Linked DNA regions of Homo sapiens. The protein of the gene in region 1 interacts with the protein of each later gene in a biochemical or structural test. Each region holds a gene or a part of one and is shown in the gene's direction. Other genes may lie near its edges. The genes, in order: NKX2-5, KPNA4 and TBX5.

Region 1 (10,391 bases):
GGCCTGAGAGGCTCCAGGCTGTGCCACCGTTGGGCAGACCCCACACTTCAGGGAGCTGCCAGGATCAGTGGCTACAAGAGTCCCCACCGTGTTTGGAGAAACTAGGTATGAAATATTTCCATTTACACCCCTACCCCGGCCCCAGACAGGAAAGTCACTTCAACCTTGTTAGGTCAGATTCCAGATCTGGTTCAGATGCAGGGCTATTTCAGAGAGATTTTTAGAGGCTGACTCTCAGGAGAGGGAAGGACAGTGGGCTGAAGGCCAGGGGTCAGGAAATCTAGGAACTGCTAAACTCCTCTGCTGGCCTGCGGGGAGCGCCCGGGTGGGGCTACCAAGGCCACAAGCCAGTTCCATCTTCCCACTTTGCCACCTTCTCACAGGGACCAGGCTCTGCATCCTCAGTGACCACAAGACTTGGGCCTGCCCTCTAGTTTGTCTATACCTGCCCCCTCCCTTGACTCATACTGTCCAAGACCCCAAGACCAAACCACAAGTCAGGAGAGATCTTGAGGGCAGCCAGTGCCACCAGGGTCCTGTTCCCAGGTACTACTAGACAAAGGCCACCCTTCCTCCCCTCTCTCTAGGGCTCCGCTGACCACCCTGCACAGTCTTCCTACACCACGGGCTCCGCTGCCACCCCTTCACAGAGAGTTCACTGCACCGCTGCTTCGGCTGCCTGTCTCAAACCATACACACACCTTTGATTCTTAAACTCCAAGATTAGGATGGGCCCCAGAAATCTGCATTTTTAATATGTACCTCAGAGGATTCTGGCCTAGATATTTCTACAGCCCCAAAAGTAACAAGGAACCTGTTCCAAAAAGTGTATTACGGAAACTGTCATGTTTATTCTTGACTTGCCCCCCAATTATTCTTCCCCTGAAGTTTTCATCACCAAAAAACCCCACATGTGAACCATATGTGTACATATGCCCATATTTAAAATACAAATTCTGCACCTGGTTTGCTATTTAAAGTATCTCAAAACATATCCATAAGAATACATATGAATGGAACTAATTCTTTCTCATGGCATATGGTATTCTGTTCTATTGGTACAACATAATTTTTTAACCAGTCCTCAGGTATATATACACTGGTTTTTTTAACATGTTTTGATTCTTAAAAAAATTAAAAACGGTGATGAAAATACTTTTCTTTGCATATATGTATATACCTATAGAATGGAATCCTAGAAATGAAAATATTTGTTCAAAGAGCTTATTCATTTTTAATTTTGGCAGTACCACATTGCTCCAAAGAGGTTTACCAGTTTACAATGTAGAAGCATGACGAGGCAACTATTACACTTTTTGATCTTCGTCAGTCTGATAAGTAAAAACATTTGCCTCTCTGTGTTTCAATTTGCATTTCTTTATTTCTTTTTATTTTTTCCAGCAAGGCTCTGATACTCTTGGTCATTTTTCAAATATTTTTGCTGGATCATTTTCTTATTGATTTACAGGTATTCTTTCCAAATTGTGGAAATCAGTACTTTGTCATGTATTTCTAGCATTTTTCCTGAGTACAGTTTTCTGTTGGATTCTATTAATGGTATTTTTGCTGTGCACAGATTTATTTTTATGCAATCAGGTTTATATAATTCATCTTTTATAGTTTCTAGGTCTTTTGTTCTCTTAATCCCCCTCTCAAATATAAAAGCACTCCAAAATTATTATTTTAATTATCTGTAGCACTTTTGTGTTTCATTTTTAACGTCCAAATGTTTGATCTATCTGAAATTGAATGTATTTGGTATAAGAAAAATCCATCACATTTTCCTTACGTTAACATCATTTTATTTTGAAAGCATATTGTCATATAGACCATCCCTCCCCCCACCCCAAATAGCATAATATTGCAATTGGCGGGGACTTCTCATCTTAACCAGTTTTACTTTGTTGGTTAGACAACTACCCACGTGCCTGTCTACCTCTGCCCACTGTCCAGGTGAGTTCAGGTAACAACCTGGGATGTCTCCCAGGATAGTGTCGCTGGAAAGGAACGCTGTGTACACCTCATACCACCAAGGAGACAGACACAAAACTGGGGACCAGACAGGAAAAGAGACATGCTCAAGATGAGCCAACTGCTGAAAAGGCAGGACCACACCCACCGCGGGCTCAGAGGCCAGCGCTCTTTCTGACACACGCCTGCCTTTTTCAGGGTCTGTGCATCTTGGGCTGTGCAACCCCAGCACCTGGTACATAGTGGGCACCCACTCAATGTAGGTGAAGGGATGGAGAAAATCAGGCCAAGAATCCAACAGTGACCAAGCTGTGGAGTCACTTGGCAGCTGGGTGAAAGCTACGGTCCACTCTTTTAGCCTCTCCCCTCACAGCCACACACACACACACACACACACACATACGCACAGTATCCACTAGCCATGTGGATCTGCTCTTTCCTTCTGTGGGCTCTAGGCCCTTCCTATGGCTGAGCAAGTTTCCATGGACAGCTCTTAAAGCAGCTTGGAGACTTTCTGTCTGTCCTAGCTGGCTAGCAGGGGGCTGGGGAGGGGTGGGGGGTGAGGGAAGGAAGCCAAAACCCAGCTAGGCAATAGAGAGTTAGTATTTCCAGTGCTCTGCTCAGACAGCCCAGAAAGCAGGATTGACTACATAGTTTGTGGGCTCAGCGCAAAATAGAAATGTGGAGACTCTGCTTAAAAACTTATGAAGAGTTTTAAGACAGCAACAGCGGAACATTAAACCAAGCTCAGGCCCTGTGAGACTGCACAGATGCCATGCCCATGAAGGATAGGGTTAATTATGGAGGAGGGGGAAGGGCCCTTTCAAGGACTCTAAAGCTTCAGACTGTAAGGTAGAAGTGGGCTGGAGGGGTATTCATAATAGACAAAATGTGGAAATAACCCAAATGTTTACCAAGTGATGAATGGACGAAGTGTGGCATAGACATACAATGGAATATTGTTCAGCCATTAAAAGGAACAAGATGCTGATACGTGCTACAGCATGGACGAACTTTGAAAACATTATGTTAAGTGAACGCTGCGAGACACAAACAGCCACATATTGTATGATTCCATTTGTATGAAATGTCCAGAACAGGCAAATCTATAGGGGCAGAAAATAGATTAGCAGTTGCCTAGGGCTGGGAAGGTAGGAGAGGGGATTGGAGTTGATGGCTAAAGACCACAAGTTTGTTTTTGGGGTGATAAAAATGTTCTAAAATTGTGGTGTTGGTTTCACAACTCTGTGGACATACTAAAAATCACTGAACTGTATACTTTAAATGGGTGGATTGTATGGTATGCGAATTATATCTCGATAAAGCTGTTATCAAAATAGGAGAGGGAAGGGAGAAGGGAAAGGAAAAGTGGGAGAGCGAGGGGAGGGGAAGGCGGAAGTGAAATGAACGCATGTTAAATTCCTCTCTCCCCCTCTCTTTCTCAAATGAACTTTATGCAGGAAATCTCCCTTGTCTATGAAGGTTGGGGAGACCTGGCATCTCAAATCCAACAGCCTGGTCCTCTCCCCTGGCTGCGGGGTGGGGGGTGATGGTGGGGGTCTTGCTCTTCCTCCAGTTGGTACGGTCTTGGGCGCAGCGACGTGTAATAAAAGAAAACAGTCTCAGCTGTGCAGTCAGCTGTGTGTTCGAATCCTAACACCCTGACACTGTCCTTTCCCATCTGTGTGACCCTGAGCAACTTACTCCACGTCTCTGAACCTCATTCTCCTCAGGCCTGCAGTCGGAATAAGAGGATCCGTGACGAGATCCGTGAGAGCGCCTGGCACACCCCGTGGGCACTGAACAAGCGTGGAAATGAGAAGGATTTGGTGCCAGCTGAGCCACCTGAATGAGGCGAGTCCCGAGGCAGGAAAAATCCGGTGCCGCGGAGGCCGCCTGGACTCTTCCGGAGCCAAGGGCGAGGTCGGCGGCCCTCAGAGTCGCCCCCCGCCCCCAACTCCCGGCCAGGAAGGAAGCCGGGCGGCGGAGGGGCCCAGCGCGGAGGCGGAGGCGGAGGCGGAGGCGGAGGCCGAGGCCGGGAGTCCGGCGCGCAGCCGGAGCTGCTCATCCATCAGCCGGACGAAGAGCAGAGTCGCGCTCTCGGCCCTCTGTTTGCTTTCTCGCCAATTATTGCAGCGCCGCAGCCCCTTTGTTGATACAGTAGTCCGAAAAAGTGCTAATGTTCATTTATCAGGGGGCCAGCCGGGGACTCCCACGAGTTGCGATTCTTCCCAAAATATAAACATGGGGCGAGCGTCCCAGACAGAAACTCCCATCTGTTTCCCCCGCGCGGGCCGAGAGCGAGGCGTTGTTGAAGATAAAGCCGCGGATAACGCCGCCTGTCTCCAATGGACGTCTCCCCAGCGCATTAATGACATTCCCGGTGATAGTTCCAGCTTATCTTTCAATTAATCATATATACCTTTTGCGACCAGCCCTGCTGATTGCACGAAAGGGGGGCCGGCTCCGGCTGCGCCGATCGCTTTTCAATTAATAATAATTTATTCACGGAGAATGCGCTCGAGCCACCCTGGAATTTGGATTATCTTAAAGCACCAACTCTTTAAAAGTCAAGGAAATACACAGATAGATTTTCGATCTCTTCTCTCTCCTTTTGTCTCTCTCTGCCTTTCTCTAGGCTGAAGGCTGTTTGTTTGTCCTGCTAGTTTGGTCAAAGTGCGGCGCAGAGAGGCGGCCAGGTTGGGTCAGCGGCCCTTGGGAAAAAAAGATGTGTCCCTGTTGGGGGCCAGAGAATCAAGTTTCCTCCCACCCAACCCCCAACTATTGCAATTTCTATTTAGATCTATTTAGAGGGATTTTTTTTTAACTCACTCGGAAACAGTGAGGACTGGAAAGAAAAGCTGCAAATGGCTCTCGGACTTTCCTCTAAGGAGACCAGCATGGGTCGCCCCAATTTCTATTTTGCACGTATTTGTCCGTTTTTGCCCCATCTCCTCTCTCCTGCAACACCAAGACCTTTTTGGAAGCCAAGAGAAATCATTACCCGATTCACAAAGAGCATAGAGAGTGTAACAGTCACTGATCTTGTTCAAATAGGGAGAGTTTTTTTTCCTTCCCTTTTTGTAACACCTGACCCACAGGACTGACAGTTCTAGGAAGCCCCCTTACCCGAAAATAGGAAATAAATCCTTGCCACCTTGATTTGCAAGGGCAATGCTAATTTTTTTCTTTCTCCAGAGCTCTCAAAAAAAAAAAAAAAAAAACCTTACTAAAAACAGGGATCCCGGATGTAGCCTCGATGTCCCCCATTAAACGGTAATATTTCAGGCGTCCGCTCACACTAATCTTTCAAACTGTCATCGCGAGCCGCCTGGCCAGCAGATTCACTTAACAGCGCTCCCAGGACCCTCGTTCCGAGCTCTTTTCAGCGAGACATTTAATTGAATCGGATGTGGCTCGTTTGCCAGACGTCACCGCCTCGGCGATAGGCATCCTCTCCAACGACACCCCCCCCCGCCCGCGCTCGAAAACAATCTTCAAAGGCAAGGCGGGCCCCCAAGCTAGGTTAATTTACAGCCATAACGGTAACGTGGCCAAAAGTCCAGGCGAGGAAGGGCCGCAAGGCCGCTGACATGCAGCTCCGTCCAAGGAGAATTTGGGTTGGGAGGTGAAGAGGTGGGGGGACGAGGTTTCCTGGGCCTTGAACGCCCCACATTTAAGAAAAGGCATCCTCCACAGACTAGACTAACAATTCCAGACCCCCAGTAGTCCCTGGCTCAGAAACTCGAGGCGTGATTTCGGCGTGGCAGCCCAGGCCTGTTACTGACGGCTGGCGCCTAGAAGCCGGGGTCAGGGCGTTGCGCGCCTCCTGGGCTGCCCTGCGGGGCTCACCTCTCTCCCCAGCATGGAGGCCCCAGGTCCTGGGAGTGTGGCTTTGATGAGGGACAGGAAAAGTCCCAACATCAGGCCAATGCTTGACTTCACTTGCGTCGGCGTCTCAGACGGCACACTGTCGGGTTTGAGCACCCAAGATGTACGTTCTGGACAGACACTATTTTGTCCCCATACATGGAGCGTTTCCTCCGCACCTTGGGCGCGCCTGCGGGAGCTGTGTCTTTAGGTAGTTTTTGGCCCTGCGCCGCCTTTATTCTACTCCAAGCGCCTCTTGCCAACCCGCACTCCGCAAAGAGCCAAGCCCTCCACATCCCCATTCTCAGCAAGTCCACGCGTCCCGCCCAGCTTCCCGCCCGCGGTTCCCTGTACCAGCTAGGGCCGTGAGAAGCCAACGCTTTTCCACTGACAAATCCTGTCATCCCCAGCTCTAGAAGGCGTCCTTAACCTGGGCCCGCTCTGCCTGCCCGGACTCCTGAATTGTAAGCAAAATAAAACTCCTCTCTGCAGTGTTCTGGGGAATGGAGAAGACCCCAAGCTTTCATCAGACCTCCCAAGGAGTGCGGGGACCCAGAGAAATGAGGCCACCCGGGCAGGATCTGGCCATGTAGCTGGCGCTCCTGAAACTCTGGCAGATTTGTCTGACTTCTGTGCCCTACTCTACTGACCCTGGGCTAAAAATGATCATGATCACCCCACTTGCCCTGCCCTTCCCCCACGCGCCTGACCGAGCCGCAGGGGTGCCCCACTGGAAGTCCGGCCCAGAGGCCTCAGAGAAATCCTGGCCTAGCTGGGCTCAGAGGAGCCCCGCCTCCCTGAGAGCTAAACCTGGGCTAGGACCCTGAAACCTCGAGGTTGGCAGAAGCCTGAGGGCCTTGCTGCCAGGCAGGGAGGGCACGGGAAGGAGGGAGGTGGGATCGATGGCCTCCAAACAGGGGAAACAAGGTGGCTGGTAGCTGGGGCACTCCACAAGACAGGTGTCTCCTGGGAAGCTGAGCTTACCAGCTGGGATTCCTGATTTATTTCATTATTAAGGGGAGAGGCATTTCCCTGGGAGGGTACTGGCAGTGACTGATGCCCCCTGGAGTTGTGCTGTGCATAACACTACTGTAGGAGGCAGCAACTCCTACCCCACCTGGCCATCACTCACCTTGCCCTTACTTTCGTTGACTCGCCCAGAAGCACCCAGAGCCTGCGGCATGACTGACCCTGTAGGCCAAGCCAAACCAAACCCCCGAATTGTCCAGAATCTCGCCCTGCTGCTATCCCCAAAGCCAGCCCTGTCCTCCAGGCTTCTCTTCCTATTCAGACTCTCCCTCATCCCACCACCTTCAGTAATAAAGCCTTCCTCAAATCACTCTCCTCCCCACCGCTTCCCACCCCATCCTTCTCTCTCCCATGCTGGTTTGGGTGCTGAGGAATATTTCTTCAAACCCACACCCATCCAGCCCTGCCCAGAGGCCTGACTCTGCATGCCTCTGGTAGGCTTTTCAGGCTCACATTAGGGAGCAAACGCAGGCTGCAGGAGCAAAAGGAGACCCTTCCAAATGCGTCGTGGCCCCTTTAAAAAAGCTGGGCAGGGCTTTTTTTTTTTTTTTTTTTTTTTTTTTTTTTTTTTTTTTTTGCCGTATGACTATATTAGGTGACACGAAACTGCTCATCGCTCCTGTCATCGAGGCCCCTGGCCCAATGGCAGGCTGAGTCCCCCTCCTCTGGCCTGGTCCCGCCTCTCCTGCCCCTTGTGCTCAGCGCTACCTGCTGCCCGGACACATCCAGAGCTGGCCGACGGGTGCGCGGGCGGGCGGCGGCACCATGCAGGGAAGCTGCCAGGGGCCGTGGGCAGCGCCGCTTTCTGCCGCCCACCTGGCGCTGTGAGACTGGCGCTGCCACCATGTTCCCCAGCCCTGCTCTCACGCCCACGCCCTTCTCAGTCAAAGACATCCTAAACCTGGAACAGCAGCAGCGCAGCCTGGCTGCCGCCGGAGAGCTCTCTGCCCGCCTGGAGGCGACCCTGGCGCCCTCCTCCTGCATGCTGGCCGCCTTCAAGCCAGAGGCCTACGCTGGGCCCGAGGCGGCTGCGCCGGGCCTCCCAGAGCTGCGCGCAGAGCTGGGCCGCGCGCCTTCACCGGCCAAGTGTGCGTCTGCCTTTCCCGCCGCCCCCGCCTTCTATCCACGTGCCTACAGCGACCCCGACCCAGCCAAGGACCCTAGAGCCGAAAAGAAAGGTGAGGAGGAAACACAGGCCCCCTTCTCCCCTCCTGGGTCGCTTTCGTCCCCAAGAAACTCAGGGCCAGGAGGAGGAGACACGCGCCCTTGGGCCGAGGGCTGGGCTGCGGCGGGGGGTTCAGAATGTAAGATGCCTGGTGTTGTCGCCAGGCTCCCGCGCCCCGCGTCCAATCGGAGGTTCAGAGGAAATGCCGGATTGAAAGGATCAGAAGCAAGAGACCAAAAAACGTTTCCCCCCGGCCTAACAAAGCCCCGGGCGGCTTCGGCTCTGCTCCTGGGTCTGGTAGGAAGTTGAGAAATCGGTTTATGGTAGACAGAACAGAGAGACAAGCAGATAATCTCTGTTTTTAAATCTCCTTTGGATTTACGAATCTTTTTAAAGATCTGATGAGAACCGCTAAACAGAAATTGAAATGTTGCTCACCAGACAGCTTTTGCGTACAATCGGAGGAGGGTCCTGGACCTTCTTTCTGCAGCCCACCCACGACCCGGGTTTCTGGTGCCTTTCTTTCTTTGCGCCAGGAAAGTGGAGTCTGGGATCGAGGGCCTTGATTTTAAAATGGGATACTGCGGACCCTCAGGAATCTGACTTCACTTTATTTTTTCAGCACAACTTGCCGGCGCGGCCAGGGCGGAGAGGTTCCCTCGTGGAAAAGTTAGGAAATGCTGCGCTACCGCGGGCACAAGGGAGTGGACGAGATGAGTGCGGGATCATCCCGCAGGCCATCCCAGGATCGGGGAGGGAGGCCGGCCCCGCTGCAGAAAGGGGCCTTCTGGGAGACCCCCCAGCCCAAGGCAGGAGCCCGGGCGATTCCCGGGAGGCCGCAGGCGCTGGGCGAAGCGCTGGGCGAAGGGCCGCTGCCAGCCGGGAGAGAATTCATAGGTTTGTTGAGGAGCAGAGGCCTGGGAACAAATTCGGGCGGGCACGGCGGCTAGAACTGATCGCTACCAATTCGAGGAAGCCAGCAAGGCAGGTTCCGAGGCCGCCTGCCCACCCGCAGCTTCTTGGACACTGCGCAAACCCTGCTGCGGCCAGGCTGGAGCCTCCGATCACCAAACCAACACTCCCTGGCCTTCTGTTTCTTGATTCCTTAATTTTGAGATAAGACCGTCCCTAGCAGTGAGGCCTCGGCCTCTGTTCATTTAACTTCTCAAACCAAACTAGCCCTAATTCAGTTCACCCCAGAGCATCACCTGGTTTTATTTTTATTTTTTTATTTTTTTATTTATTTTTTTTTTTTTTGCAGCCTGAAATTTTAAGTCACCGTCTGTCTCCCTCACCAGGGTGTGAACTGCCCCGAGGGCAGAGACCTCCCGTTTTGTTCTCCAGCGCCTTGAGCCAGCCTGACTTTCTACAAATGCTGAGTGAGACGTGTCGGTGGCTCCCAGTGCACTTGGCAGAGTGAGCCGCAGCCAGCTGGGCGCTCCAGGCAGGACACAGTGGCCTCCACGAGGATCCCTTACCATTACTGTGCGGCCGCGCTCCGTAGGTCAAGCCGCTCTTACCAAGCGTCTCTCTGCCTCTCTGTTCCCCCTCAGAGCTGTGCGCGCTGCAGAAGGCGGTGGAGCTGGAGAAGACAGAGGCGGACAACGCGGAGCGGCCCCGGGCGCGACGGCGGAGGAAGCCGCGCGTGCTCTTCTCGCAGGCGCAGGTCTATGAGCTGGAGCGGCGCTTCAAGCAGCAGCGGTACCTGTCGGCCCCCGAACGCGACCAGCTGGCCAGCGTGCTGAAACTCACGTCCACGCAGGTCAAGATCTGGTTCCAGAACCGGCGCTACAAGTGCAAGCGGCAGCGGCAGGACCAGACTCTGGAGCTGGTGGGGCTGCCCCCGCCGCCGCCGCCGCCTGCCCGCAGGATCGCGGTGCCAGTGCTGGTGCGCGATGGCAAGCCATGCCTAGGGGACTCGGCGCCCTACGCGCCTGCCTACGGCGTGGGCCTCAATCCCTACGGTTATAACGCCTACCCCGCCTATCCGGGTTACGGCGGCGCGGCCTGCAGCCCTGGCTACAGCTGCACTGCCGCTTACCCCGCCGGGCCTTCCCCAGCGCAGCCGGCCACTGCCGCCGCCAACAACAACTTCGTGAACTTCGGCGTCGGGGACTTGAATGCGGTTCAGAGCCCCGGGATTCCGCAGAGCAACTCGGGAGTGTCCACGCTGCATGGTATCCGAGCCTGGTAGGGAAGGGACCCGCGTGGCGCGACCCTGACCGATCCCACCTCAACAGCTCCCTGACTCTCGGGGGGAGAAGGGGCTCCCAACATGACCCTGAGTCCCCTGGATTTTGCATTCACTCCTGCGGAGACCTAGGAACTTTTTCTGTCCCACGCGCGTTTGTTCTTG
Region 2 (3,978 bases), on another chromosome or scaffold:
AAAATTCCCCTCTGTTGCCTTTAAAAGTGTTTCCTTAGGAAGATCTGCATTTTAAACACTTATCTGCACGTTGTTCTACTAAAAAAATATACTAGAAAGGACCGAGAGTCAACGATTCTGAAGGAGTTTGTATCAGGGTCTCTTCTCCCTACCTCGTCAAGTTTAAACACACCCAACGCCTCGATTCCTTGCTTCCGACCCGAGTTGCTGCTTTACATATCCCTGTACATTTGAGGTGTTATTCGTTGATATTTCAATATATTTTAAAATAATTTTCCATTTCTGTTTTGTTAAATTTTTGAATACGTTCTTTTGTATCTCGTGTCATTTCTGCCTCTGGTAACGTTGTCCTTGGTATCCTTGGAACTCATTTCCTTTCTCAACACACAATATTCCCTGTCAGCTGCCACGGGCCCCGCCCTCCAGAAGTTCATACTTTGTGGTCAAGCAGCTTCTTTAACTTTTTAAGACGAATTACCTAGGAAGTGCTATTGTCCCAGGATCACCAGCTCTGCCTAAATTCCTAACTGTTGCGGGTGCTTAGTCACAGAAGATGAATCAGATTCGTCTAATGGGCCCTTTCCTTTTCCACCCACCTTTCCTGTCGCTTTCCGCTGAGCCTCCTCAACTCACGTCATCCCAGCAGGTCCTGGCCCCCAGACCCGGCCCTGGACGGCACGGAGCCCCAGCCCGGGAACGCAGCTGCGAGCGTCCGACCGGGAGACAGCGAAGCTCAGATCTCTCTGCAAAGCGAACGGAGAGCGCAAGGAATGCCCAGGAAGACAGGGCGCGCCCGGGGAGAAAAGAACGTTACTTTAACGCAGCCTCGACCCTGAACCCCCGGCATCTAGGGCTTCCTGGACGAGTGGAGCAAAACAACTCGCCCTGCTGCGTTCCCGGGCCTCTCCTTCCCCTTGCTGGTTTCCCCTTAAGTCTACTTCTCTATTGCTTCCAACCCCTCTCTCCGAAGGCACGTGGTCCTTCCCCGCCTGCCCCCGCCGCACCCCTCCGGGCCCGGAGCCGGCTCCTCCCAGCGTCGTTCGCTTCCCCTTTCCGTTCGCTCTTTCCGCCCCGGCTCTCCATCGCCCCTTCTGATTGGTCGAACGCACCGGAGCCTGGTTAGCCAATGGGCGAGCCGGGCTGGAGGCGATGGGCGTGGCCGCAGCGCCGGGGCCCTCAGATCGAGGCTGCCTCCCCCTCTCAGCCGGCAGCACATTCCGTCGCCTTGCCGCCGCCCGGCCCCACAGTTGTCTTTGCCGGAGCTGCAGTCGCGCTGGGGTTAGGGCGGGGGGGCGGGCGGGGAGAGGAGAAGGCCGCGGCGGAGGCAGGTGAGAGGAGGAAGGAAGCGGCGGCGCGGCGGGCACAGCAGCTCAGGCGGCGGCCCGGTTCCTGGGAGTGTCGGTGCGGCGCGTTGGTTGGGGCGGATCCCGCGGGGCCCGGGCGGGGGAAGGAGTCACCGGCCCGGCCATGGCGGACAACGAGAAACTGGACAACCAACGGCTCAAGAATTTCAAGAACAAAGGCCGCGACTTGGAGGTAAACTCGGGGACGACGCCGGAGGGGTGGGGGCTGTGGGCCTGGGGCCGGTCTCCGCCGGGACCCCGAGTGTGGGGATTAGGGGCGGGAGCCGCCTCCAGGCCTCGGGGAATGGCGCTAGGGGCCGGCCCGTCTGTGACGCCTCTGCTAGCGCGCCGGGAAGTTTATGTCGGGCCTGCTCCGCCTCCGCCGGGGAGCGAGGTGCCCGGGTACGGCCGGCGCGGCCTAGGCCTGCCCGGCGGAGCCGGCCCGGCGCGGGTGCGAGGGGCCGGGCCGCGCGGCGGGGAGGCCGGGCGCGGCGCGTGCGGAGGAGGCGTGCGTGTGCGGCCGGTGCTGCCCCGGCCGGGCCGCGGCCCCTTCCCCGGCAGTGGCGGAGATTCCGGCTCTCGCTCGGGCACCGACGTCTGGCGCCGCGGGAAGGAGGGCGGTGGGAATGGGAGGGTGAGCGTGTGGCGACCGAGTGGGGCTCTGAACTTCCTCAGCGAGGCCCGAGGCGTCTCCACTTAAAGGCATTTTTTCTGGTCTTCCCGACTCCCGCTTTACCCCTGCCTCCCCCCAATATCCAAACTACAGGACAACTTCTCCGTTGAAAAAAACACCCCCGGCGTGAGAGGCCATCCTGGTGATCCTAACAGTGCCTTCCAGCGGCCTGTGTTTTACTCTGGATATAGCTGATTCAAGATGTGGCTCACGGTGTGCCCTCTTCCAGGCAAAGGATACCCCTTATTTCAGCTTGTCCACAAATCTCTTTACCCCCTCCTGAGAGGAGACCACCAGCTGCATTCTTACATATAAAGTCTAAAGGGTTATACAAAGCTGTCATCCTCTAGTCTACAGTATCCTTTCCCTCCACCTGCTGGTGGTGGTAGTGGGGGATGGGGTGGGCTAGGGAATGGCACCATCACGTTTGATTATTTAAAAAGGAAAAAAAAAGCTTCATTGTCTTAGATACAGCTGCTCCCGAGATTGTCTACATAAGGTGTATGGGTTAAATACACACATGCACACACGCATACCCACACACCCCACTGAGATTTTTGATAGAAGACTTCTTCCCTTCAGCTTTTAAGAGTTTAGATAAATAGATTTAATACTTCCCTTCTGCATCTTAATCACGAGTTTAGCTTTTAGGGAAAGTGGTCAAGCAGTATTTTTTATGTTGTTCTCGGTACGTTTTCATAATGAAATCTTCAACTTCCCATGGCATTTCTGAACTTGAGAGTCTGCTTGACTGAGATATTTTTTGGGCTTTTTACAAAGCTGTTAATATTATCTTTAAAGTAGTTCAAGCGTTTTAGTGGGTTTCATAATTTGAGGGACGACTAAGTGTCCAGGGATGTTAATTCTGTGGTTCTTTTAAGGTTAACATATTACCATTGTGATCCCTTTTTTTAATGCAAAGATGTCACATCTTTATTGAGATAATTTGCATGCCATAAAAATGAGCTTCTTAAATAACAATGATTTTTCAGTAAATTTACTTGTTTATGAAAGAATGTGGTGAAAATGTTTTTTACTAATATGAATACTTAGAATGAGAAAAAATCACAAATGATAAAACTTAAAAACTGGTAAGTACCACAAAATTACAGAATCCAGAAAAATAGCAATTAGGTGCTTGACAGATCCCTATAACCCTTTTTTCCTCTACATTTCTGGCTTCATTTTTCTGGCAGCTTCATTGAGATGTAATTCGCATGCCATACAATTCACCCACTTAAAGTGGCTTTTAGTGTATTCGCAGTTTTGCAACCATCACCACAGTCCATCTTAGAACATTTTCACGGCCCCAAAAAGAAACCTGTACTCATTAACAGTCACTCTCCAATTCCCAACTACCCCAGCCCCAGGCAACCAGTTTTTGTCTTCTTAGATTTGCCTATCCTGGACATCCCATATAAATGGAATTGTACAATTTGTGCTCTTTTTTAACTGGCTTCTTTCACATAGTGTAATGTTTTCAAGGTTTATCCGTGTTGTAACAAGAATGTATCAATGTTTCATGGCCGAATGATCCTTATGGCCGAATGATCCAATGATCCTCCAGCTCATGGATATACCACATTTTATTTATCCCTTCTTCAGTTAATGAACATTTTCATTGTTTCCACTTTTTTAGCTATTTTACATAATACTACTAAGAACATTTTTGTGTGGATGTATGTTTTATTTCTCTTGGCTATATACCTAGGAATAGAATTGCTAGATCATATGGAAACTTACTTTGAACCTTTGGTGGAATTGCCAGACTTTCTGAAGTTATCCTTATTTTTTAAATTGATGTTTCCTCCTACCTCATATCTTTTGGCACTTTAGTCAAAATCAGATTAAGTCCTGAGGCTGTATTAGAAGAATATTGTGATGTGTGACTTTTAAAAAATAAGTATATATTGACATTAGCCAGGTTTTTTTGTTTTGTTTTGTTTAGAAATTCATAGTGCC
Region 3 (10,115 bases), on another chromosome or scaffold:
AAAAAACCCTCACCCTCCAAACTTGGAGAGTAAAGAGGACGATTGTCATCTAAAGCACACAAAGCAACACTAACATGAATGAGGAGAGCAGCGATAATAATTCTTGGTGGAAATATTGGAGGAGAGTATTGGACACTCAATAATCATAATAATAACAGCCAGTATTCTTCCCACATACTTCCGGTCAAAAGTGGGGAAACCAGAAACCGAATAAAACATTGGGAAGAGACATACTGTGTTCCTGGAAAAAATATAACAGAGCCAGATTTAACTCGGTGAGAGGGAAAGTGACCCCCTTGAGAAACCAGGGAATGTCTCACCCTCAGACCAACCCTTTCTTTTGCAAATTGAATTGGTCAAAGTTTAGTTTTGTCATCATTTCTATTGTTATAATTCTTATTCATTTTCCCAGCCCCGTCCACACTTCTATTTTTCACTACCCCCACGCCCCACAAGTTGCCACCGGGTCAGGTGGGGACATATCCGGAGAGAAATAGAAAGGGATGCATTTTAAAGCGAGTTCTCTTTTGAGAGGAAAACAATGGGTAGTTTTGGAAGTGTCTTTCTTAAAAACGGAAGGAGAAGGTGAAGAAAAAAATTATCAACAGCAATGGGCCCCTTTGGTTTGGGTTTTGACTTTTTAAAGAGGAACCTCTGCTGTCCTGTTGCAGTATTAAAATCAGGGCAGGAATTTTGCAAAATGAGAAAAATAAACTTCGGGAGAAAACCCAGCTGGGAGCAGCTTCGGGAAAGCGACAGTTCTCCGAAAGGAGGAAGGGAGGATGCGCGCTGTAGCCGGCTCCGGAGTTTACTGCCCGAACGATTGGGGAAAAGAACGAGGATTCTCAAATCTAGTTGCGATCTCTCGTCTCTCCTTTATTCTGTTCGTGGTGCGGGCTTCGGAGCGTCTGGGAAAGCCAGTCTGTGAAGCTGGACTTGCAGAATCCTTTGAATGCCGGTCCAGGTGGCTGCAGGGCCCGCAGTCCGGGATGCCGGAGAAAGGAACCACAAGGAAAAGACGCTACGCTCGGAGTTTCCCCTTTTCCTTGCAGCCCCGGCGGGGCCTAGGCCTCGGTTTCCGGCCCACCTCGGCTCAGAGGTCAAGTAGGAACTCATCTCGTCGACCTAGGGTTTGGGAGAAGGATTTCGGGTTGCGTTCTTGGCATCTGGGAGCAAACACGAGCCTCGGATTTGGGGACATATCGTTATTAACAGCTTGGGAAACGAAAGCGAAGCTCGGGGCAGCCACTGCAGCCTGGCTGAGAGAAAGGACGCGGGTTGTGCTCTCTGGAAGCAAAGGGGTCTGCGGCCCAGCTGGCCTGGGAGCTTGTGGCCGGCGCTGGAAGCTGCCCGCTCTCCCCGCGGGCCTGACCTTGGCTCCCGCCGCAGCTCTGCCGGCCGACTGCCTCCCTGCACATTTTGCTGCCGTTCCAGTCCTTACAGGACCGGGCCTGGAGCCAGGCCATGCTTCGGAAAGCCCTGGGGGTTGGGGACGCGCAAAACCCAGAATCGAACCCCGAAGCTGGGGGCAAGTCCAGATTCAGACGTCCAGCTCCCTCGGGACCCCTTGGCGGAGAACTTACCCTTCCGGAAGGCCCGACGCTCTCCGGCTCTGTGCTGGGCAGGCCTAGCTCTTCTCTCGGCGCCACCAGGGGCGTCTACGCGGTACGTTTTGCAACTCAACCTAGTGGGTTTCCAGCGGTGCGCAAAAGTTTGCGAGCATCCACCACTGCGCTGCTTAGAAATTGTGCCCATTGATCAGACTAAAAATAATAGTCGTCGTGATTACAAAACAAAATAGAGTGCCTCGTGCCTCGGCGGGCCCTGGTACAATAATTATTCTCTACAGAAACCACCTCTCTCCACTCCCACCCCTACTCCACCACCCACTCGCACCCCGCCCCTGCCGGGCCACTCTGGGACGAATTGCATTCTTGGACCTTTCTCTCCGCAAGGCACATTACGGAGAACTCCCTCTGTCTCGTGTCCCCTCCACGACAACCCAGTAATTATTTCTATGCAAGTCTGCAAGAGGGCACTGAGTTATCGCATCCCAAGCCTAACCAGCTAGAGCGGCGCCTCGGTATTCATTTGCCCAGAGCTCCTCCGCGGGGGATTTAAAAATAATAATAATAATAATAAGGATCCCATGCCTTATGCAAGAGACCTCAGTCCCCCGGAACAACTCGATTTCCTTCCAATAGAGGTCTGAGGTGGACTCCCACCTCCCTTCGTGAAGAGTTCCCTCCTCTCCCCCTTCCTAAGAAAGTCGATCTTGGCTCTATTTGTGTCTTATGTTCATCACCCTCATTCCTCCGGAGAAAGCCGGGTTGGTTTATGTCTTTATTTATTCCCGGGGCCAAGACGTCCGGAACCTGTGGCTGCGCAGACCCGGCACTGATAGGCGAAGACGGAGAGAAATTTACCTCCCGCCGCTGCCCCCCAGCCAAACGTGACAGCGCGCGGGCCGGTTGCGTGACTCGTGACGTCTCCAAGTCCTATAGGTGCAGCGGCTGGTGAGATAGTCGCTATCGCCTGGTTGCCTCTTTATTTTACTGGGGTATGCCTGGTAATAAACAGTAATATTTAATTTGTCGGAGACCACAAACCAACCTTGAGCTGGGAGGTACGTGCTCTTCTTGACAGACGTTGGAAGAAGACCTGGCCTAAAGAGGTCTCTTTTGGTGGTCCTTTTCAAAGTCTTCACCTGAGCCCTGCTCTCCAGCGAGGCGCACTCCTGGCTTTTGCGCTCCAAAGAAGAGGTGGGATAGTTGGAGGTGAGTTTCACCCTGGAGGACTGAGGGGGGAAATAGGTTTCTCTTTGCACTTGGCCCTCCTTGGCTTTTCACCCCGTCTTAGTCTTGCTGAATCTTCTCTTGCTGTGCTGCTACTTCTCATGAACGAAATAAGAATGGCTTCGTGTGTCACCTGGCAAGAATGGATTCTCTCGAAAGGTTTGAAAATCCCTATTTTGCTTGGTGGCCCAGACCATCTGTGCTCAATGAGCTAAGCAAATCTGGCTGGGCTATTACCTGGGAGAGTCCAGATTTTTCCTCTCTGGAGGGGCCTGAAGATTATTTATGGGAATTAATTTTATCCCCAAATCTCTGAGAACTTAAAGGGATTGGGAAGGTCTTTCTGGATTTCCCTTTCCCTCTACTGGAGATGTAGCGGTTCAGCCTTCTTCCGATGCCATGTTTGTTTTTCGTGTCTTCGGCCTAGGGTCGCCTTGCCAGCAAGCCTAAAGGCCTCCAAGCTGACTTGGAGGGTGAGGGTGTTTTCACAAATAAATACATCGCCTGGGCAAAGGGAAAATATCTGTTTGCAAACAAACCTGGAAGGTGGAGTGAGCACCATAGCAAAGGAGGGCTGGCTTTCTCCCCGGTTGCCCCACATTCAGGGTTGGAGATTCTCCACTTTGGCATTTTGCAGCAATGGCCTGGCCTGGGATTTTAGCAGAGCAGTCACAGAGGGTTACACAGCTGCTGACCTCGGGGCATTTCTCCTCCCTCCATCCCTTTCTCCAGACCTTGACTTGCAGGCCCAAGTCTCTTATCAGAACCCTAGAAAAATCAGTATGATGGGGGTACAGGAGGTAAGGATGGGAAACAGAACAGGACTCCTGACATTTACTCCAAGCACCAATATTCGGTGTCCCAATCTGGGTCTGCTCAGACTGAGACCTACTGACTGTGTTTGTGCTTTTATTGACCTCTTCAACTCACCCTAAAAAAAAAAAATACATCTCAGAGAGGGAAAGGGCAAGGAGAGGAGACCAGTGGAGATGAAAACCCTAGCCAGTCCCCAGTGACTGTTTGATTATTTTAATAAAACTGGGCACTGCCTTGTGTACACCTGGAGCAGGGGACGTCTGGTGGCCCCACTGGGTGGGGGGTGAGGGCCCGCAGCGATTTCTTAGCATCTTTGATCTCGGCCCCCATCCCAATGCACCTTCACCCTGCCTTCACCCCAGAGTCGTTGAGAGTAGGGGTGATGAGTAGGGGGTGGAGGGGAGATGTCAGGAAGGCGAGCGCCGGCCAGGCGGGGTCAGGCAGCTCTCCTTCTCGAGGTCAGCGTTGGAGAGAATGTCTGCAAGGCTGCGGAGGCCCGCGGTGTGTTTGTGTGTGTGCGTCCAGACTCGGTTCTCTGCACCGCCAGCGTCACTGAGATTACTTCCCGATTAGAAGCCGACCGCGTTTGAAATGATTTGTGCAGGAGTTTTTGCAGCCACCGCTTGCTCAGAGAAGCAGAGATGGATGGAGGTTGGGAAAGGGGTAGAGAGGAGGGAGTTATTGCAGGTCTGTGTTGAGAGTCGTATTGTGATTTGAGTGTTCGGGAAATCTAGTGGAAATTTGGGGTGGGGGGAAGGGAGGACGGGAGGGTGGGAGGGAGAGAGAAGGGGGAGGGCGACAGAGTGCAGTGGGAGCTAGTTGGATAGGCGATTTCAGTACTTTGTGAGCATCGAGGCAACCCAACGTCACTGTGCTCAGCTGAGTTGGCTTGTATTTCAGAGAGAGAGAGAGAGGGAGAGAGAGTGAGAGAGACTGACTCTTACCTCGAATCCGGGAACTTTAATCCTGAAAGCTGCGCTCAGAAAGGACTTCGACCATTCACTGGGCTTCCAACTTTCCCTCCCTGGGGGTGTAAAGGAGGAGCGGGGCACTGAGATTATATGGTTGCCGGTGCTCTTGGAGGCTATTTTGTGTTCTTTGGCGCTTGCCAACTGGGAAGTATTTAGGGAGAGCAAGCGCACAGCAGAGGAGGTGTGTGTTGGAGGTGGGCAGTCGCCGCGGAGGCTCCAGCGGTAGGTGCGCCCTAGTAGGCAGCAGTAGCCGCTATTCTGGGTAAGCAGTAAACCCCGCATAAACCCCGGAGCCACCATGCCTGCTCCCCCGCCTCACCGCCGGCTTCCCTGCTAGGAGCAGCAGAGGATGTGGTGAATGCACCGGCTTCACCGAACGAGGTAACCGTCCCGGCAGATGGCCCGGGAGGCTCAGGAGGGAGCTCGTCGGCCGAGTCGGCTGGGGCGGCGGGAATGGCGGATTCCAGCCCGGCTTTGCATTCTGCAGAGCACAGCTTGCAGAGATTTTGCGCGGCTCGGAGCTCCCCGGCAAATGGAGTCTGGGAGGCCGCCGCGGCTGGCGGAGCGGCATTGAGGTTTGCAGAAGCACGGCCTGGTTCTGTCAAACCGCATCTTGTTCGCCTCCGCCAGCCCAGAGCTCCCCGGGACCCTGGCGAGGGCGCGGGGTAGGATTCTCCCCGCGGCCGGCAGTGAATGGGAGCGCGTGTAGGGGCGCCAGCCCTGCTTTCTTTTGTTGTGAGTAGGCAGCGGGGCTCCAGTCGCCGCCTCCCTGAAGCCCCGAGAACGAGGCGAAGAAAGCTGCTTGCAAGTCAGGCCTCAGAAGCTGTCCTTCTCCTCGGCCCCATTTCTAGATCTCTGGCCACAGCAGGTCAGGGTGGGATCTGGCCGCTTGCTTAAGCAGCTGCTGAGGTTTTGGGGGACCATCGCTTGTGCCCGCTTCCCAAAGTCTTCCCGTTCTAGGGGGAATTCCTACTTGCGTATAGAAGAGATTGGAAGGAGATCAGAGAGCAGGAGACAGGCTCATCGGGCTTGAACAGCTCTGCGGCAGTTATTTTGTGTGTTCTAAGCTCATACGCCTGCAAACCCGGGCCGTTCTATGCATTGCGGGGACCCGGGCTGCAGATTCAATGTCTCCAGCCTAGGACTTATCCGAGAATGATTTTGTCCTCGCCAATCCTGAGCCTGAGCCTGCAGTTTTAGCAGGCCAGGCCTGGCTGAAGTTCAGAGAAACCCCTTTCGGCCTGGTCACTCCACAAAATGCCCGCCATCCCCCGCCCGGCATCAGAGCGCTGGTGGCGGGCACCCAGTGACGAGCCTTCCTCGGAACGGCTGCACGGTGACTTTCTTCATCTAGTCTTCTGTTTGGCTACTTTTTATCTTTTAACGAATCTTACTTAAGGTTGGGATAAAGAAAAGGATGTTTAATTTTAAAGGACTTTTAATGTTAAGGCCTGTAACTGGTAAAAGGTGTATATGAATTCTCTTTTGAACCTAGTCTCAATCTGCACAACCTTCCCCTTCTGTGTTTTTCTTTTTGCAAGAGGCGGGTTATTTCACACATTTCTGCCTGCTGCAGAAAACTATTCCTCTTGTGAGGTTTAATAAAAAGAGTTTCGACGGCATCTTGTAATTTGGCGAAGAAAGAAATTCTCTAAAGGACACTGGGTTTTTGTTTTGTTTTGTTTTTGGTTCCTACCCAGTGGCTTCCAAAAATACCCACGCCTTATCTTTATTGGCTCTTCCAGAAGTCCAGACAAATTTGACGGGCAGCTTGCTTATCACGGAGAGCCTGCGCAGGGGAGATGCGGGCCTCACCTTCTCCGGGTCTGACGCGGGTCTTTTGCAAGAAGTTGTGCCTGCTTATAAAGTAATAGTAATACTACTAGGAATACTAGTAACAGTAATAATTCTAGGGCCTTCTGCAGTCACCTTCGGCTGGGAACGGAGGTGCTGGTAGCTGGAAACTGGGGGCCAAACTGCTCCCTCCTGTCACTAGAATTGTGCTCTCCAACCTTTCTCTCGTTCTCTCTCTGTCCTCCCCACCCCCATCTCCCCCTGCTTCTTGTCCTCAGAGCAGAACCTTGCGCGGGCACAGGGCCCTGGGCGCACCATGGCCGACGCAGACGAGGGCTTTGGCCTGGCGCACACGCCTCTGGAGCCTGACGCAAAAGACCTGCCCTGCGATTCGAAACCCGAGAGCGCGCTCGGGGCCCCCAGCAAGTCCCCGTCGTCCCCGCAGGCCGCCTTCACCCAGCAGGTAAGGAGACCTCGCGCTTCGGGTCCCTTTGCAGAGATCAAAGTCAGAGTCTGGCTTTCCTGCTCGGCTTCTCTTGCGGGGACAGAACAAAAACAAAATAAAAAAACCCCAAAACGAACCCAACGACTATAATCATCCCTTTTCCTTTTTATTCCCACTCAGTTCCACCTTTCTCTGCCCTGTCTCCCCAAATGCTAGCGTATTGCCATCTACTTTATTGTGACGGTTATCTTTACGGCCAAAGGATTTTTGAAATCTATTTAAATTGTTCGAGAAATCTCAATTATCCGGCCGTTTGGGGTCAGCTAACAATGGCCTAGATAATTCCTTTCCCTCTGCACTATGTGTAGAATCGGCCCCCAGCATCTTAATAAGGGCCAGGTCAGCGGCCGATTCAGGCCGGCATGAGCGATGGCTTGACCCCTCTTCTGATCTTCCGTAGCCTTCGCCTCCTCCCGCCTCCTCCTGCCTCCTCCTGCCTCCTCCGCGCCGCCGACTAGACCCGCGCGCCGCACCATTTGTCTTGCGGTCGGGGCCTGGCTGGCTGGCGCGCCATCACCGGCCGCTGGGAGCGCACAGAGCTCTGCCCGGAGGGCACCAGGAGCCTCGGGTTCGCCAGGCTACAACCTGGGCCCAGGCAGAGGGAGGAGCCTCACCTTGCGCTCTGCGCCCAAAACCCAGGACGCACTGGGCGCTCAAGTCGGCCCCTCAGTAGATCCTGGTAATTTTTAAATAAGGTGTCACATGGGGTGAAACGGGGTGACGACCAGAAGAGACACTTACACATGGCTAAAATCCTGCCTTGGGATTTCGATCCCTTCCTGGCTTTTCCCGGCTTCTCTCTTTGGCCTTTAAGTTTCAGGAAAACGTGTGTATATTTGTAGAGAAGCAGAGAGCGTGAACACAGTTTAGGAAACTTAGGGATTTTTTTTTTTCTTTTAAGGAAAAGCAAACCCACTTTTTAGACTGTTGTAAATTATTCCAAAATGAAGAGTTTGTGTGTGCATGTATGTGTGTGTGCACATATGTATATATATGTATATATATACATTTGCATCGGTTCTGTAAATTTAGTTTTAGCTGAAAGCCAAAATGTTAAATGGCATCAGGCGTGTCCTATAATCAAAATAGCTGGATGTGAATGGAACTACTTGTAGAGAGAGCCTGGAAGGTTTGTTAATATAGATATTTAGGATTAATTATCCTTCTGGACTGTAAGAATATATGATAATACAAACATTTTTAGGTTTCAAAATTCATGTATGTTCAGGTTTGCACTCACCATGGTCGAGAATAAGCAAGTATTTGCACATCTGTATGTTTGATGTGTGGGCATCTGAGTGTCTACATGAGAATATTCTGAGTGGTTTTCTAGATTAGGTTCCTAGTTTTTCTAAATTAGGTTTTTTATCTATCCCCCCCACCCATCTCAGGTGAAGTGGATTGAAATTGGCTCTGGTTTTTTTTTTTTGGTTTGTTTGTTTGGTTGGTTTTTTCTTATTCCGGTCCTCCTCAGTGACATTCCGGAGCACCCTGATGGTGGGTGATCACTCCATAGCCTTGTGCTGATGGCATTAGAAGCAGACAATACAGCACTGTGGGTTCAAGTGGTTGTTGCAACCCTCAGGGATTCAGCCTACATAGGGATCCCTGGGCAGAGGCTGTTGGGTGCTCCAGATAATTCTGCAGTGGGCTGAAGCCACTTTTTACTCTCTGAGACCACAGGCTCCAGCGGGAAGGAGGAGCAGTCTCTGTGTTTTGGGGGAGTTTGGGGAAGGAATGCCCACTACTGCCAGGGCTTGTTAGTGTGACTTTTTTCTCCTTCTTGCAGGGCATGGAGGGAATCAAAGTGTTTCTCCATGAAAGAGAACTGTGGCTAAAATTCCACGAAGTGGGCACGGAAATGATCATAACCAAGGCTGGAAGGTGAGATGGTTTGTTGTGTAGAGAGAGGGACGAGGAGAAATTGTGGGAGAGGTGAAGAAGAAAAGGTGGCTTGGAAGAGAAGAAGGAAGGAAAGGGGCAAAAGGAGAGGGAATATAGAGAAAGAAGAGAAAGGAGAGGAGAGGAGAGAGAGAGCGAAAGATAGATCCTGGTTAAAGAGGCACAAGGAGATTCCTCCATTGATCTCTCCTAGGATGGAGGAAATACTCCAGAAGTTCAAGCCCGGAAACTGGGCATTTCTCCCACCTCACATATAGAAAGAATAAAGAGCTTGGGAGGCCGTGCTATCTGGATTCGTAATGAGGGAAAGAGAGAAGAGGGAAAGGAGAAAACAGAAAACAGAGACCCAGAGAAGACAGAGTCTAGAAGGTTTTTGGGTTTCAGGGATCTTGGACTTTATCTTTACTCCAATCCTCATTCCCACCCTCCCTGACCTTGGAGTGGCTCCAGGGTCCCACCCGATTGTCAAACTCTGAATCGTTGGATGTATTCGCTACCTCTTTCATTGTTTATAGAAAGCAGGCGAAGCCTTTAAAACTGAACCGGGGCTCGGCCGGGCTCTATATACAGACACCAATAAACACGGCAGCTTCGCCAAGACACTCGCCCCGGAGTTCCCCTTAAAAGCTCGCAGAGTTTTAGCTAGAAATGCTAGACTTCTGGGGGAGGAGGAAGGAGAGTGGTGCAGCTCTGTATGTCAGTGTGAGTGTGTGAGCATGTGCACGCGCGCGCCCAGGCCTGGGGACGTCCTGGCCACATCCCTACCCGTGCTGGACGGGTCTTCCGCGTCCCGCAAAGCAAAAAGCCAGAGGATGCCCCGAGCAGGCGTGTGGAGCAGGCGAACGGTAGGCCCAAGCCACCGAGTGTGTGAAGGGGGAGGGTGGAGCCGCCTTTCCAGACGCCCCCCGCCCCCGTTCTCCAGCCGAAGCCTCCCTCAATAAACTGACAACAGTGACATTTATTATTATTTAAAATTAAACAAAGTCTGCTCCCCGCTCGGCCCAAGGCCTGAGTGAACTAGGAGGCGCGTTCTGTTTATATCAACGAACTGCAGTCCTCTTCCTATTCCCCCAGGAAGGAAAGACACGTCCGAGTCCCTCTTTCCCCCCGAGCCTGAGCCGTGAGGATTTAACTATAAAAGGCCTGCGAAGTCTTCTGCGCCTCCGCCTCCGGGCGCGCTCGCTCAGGCTGATAAACACTGCGAGGCTTTGGCTCCGGGGCTCGGAGGGAGAGGCCTCCATTCGACCGTTCCCGCCATCGCTGAGTGAGCCGAGATCTGCCAACTTGTCTTTTCGCCCCGGGCCAGCCTTGAGAATCTTTGCTTTCTGGGGC

The links.
Region 2: the proteins of NKX2-5 (region 1) and KPNA4 interact in a test that uses a peptide from one of them, tested with the Homo sapiens proteins (one study listed by BioGRID).
Region 3: the proteins of NKX2-5 (region 1) and TBX5 form a complex in vitro, tested with the Homo sapiens proteins (one study listed by BioGRID and IntAct).

The regions. Positions count from the first base shown.
Region 1 is NC_000005.10:173,232,407-173,242,797, reverse strand, and holds the start of NKX2-5 (homeobox protein Nkx-2.5), read left to right. Parts: upstream 1-7,591; 5' UTR 7,592-7,714; coding exon 7,715-8,048; intron 8,049-8,657; coding exon of another isoform or gene 8,658-8,752; exon of another isoform or gene 8,753-9,289; intron 9,290-9,296; coding exon of another isoform or gene 9,297-9,301; exon of another isoform or gene 9,302-9,333; coding exon of another isoform or gene 9,334-9,455; exon of another isoform or gene 9,456-9,588; coding exon 9,589-10,229; 3' UTR 10,230-10,391. UniProt on the Homo sapiens protein: Transcription factor required for the development of the heart and the spleen. During heart development, acts as a transcriptional activator of NPPA/ANF in cooperation with GATA4.
Region 2 is NC_000003.12:160,562,772-160,566,749, reverse strand, and holds the start of KPNA4 (importin subunit alpha-3), read left to right. Parts: upstream 1-1,178; 5' UTR 1,179-1,467; coding exon 1,468-1,536; intron 1,537-3,978. UniProt on the Homo sapiens protein: Functions in nuclear protein import as an adapter protein for nuclear receptor KPNB1. Binds specifically and directly to substrates containing either a simple or bipartite NLS motif.
Region 3 is NC_000012.12:114,400,476-114,410,590, reverse strand, and holds the start of TBX5 (T-box transcription factor TBX5), read left to right. Parts: upstream 1-4,446; 5' UTR 4,447-4,963; intron 4,964-6,654; coding exon of another isoform or gene 6,655-6,692; coding exon 6,693-6,839; intron 6,840-8,670; coding exon 8,671-8,765; intron 8,766-10,115. UniProt on the Homo sapiens protein: DNA-binding protein that regulates the transcription of several genes and is involved in heart development and limb pattern formation. Binds to the core DNA motif of NPPA promoter.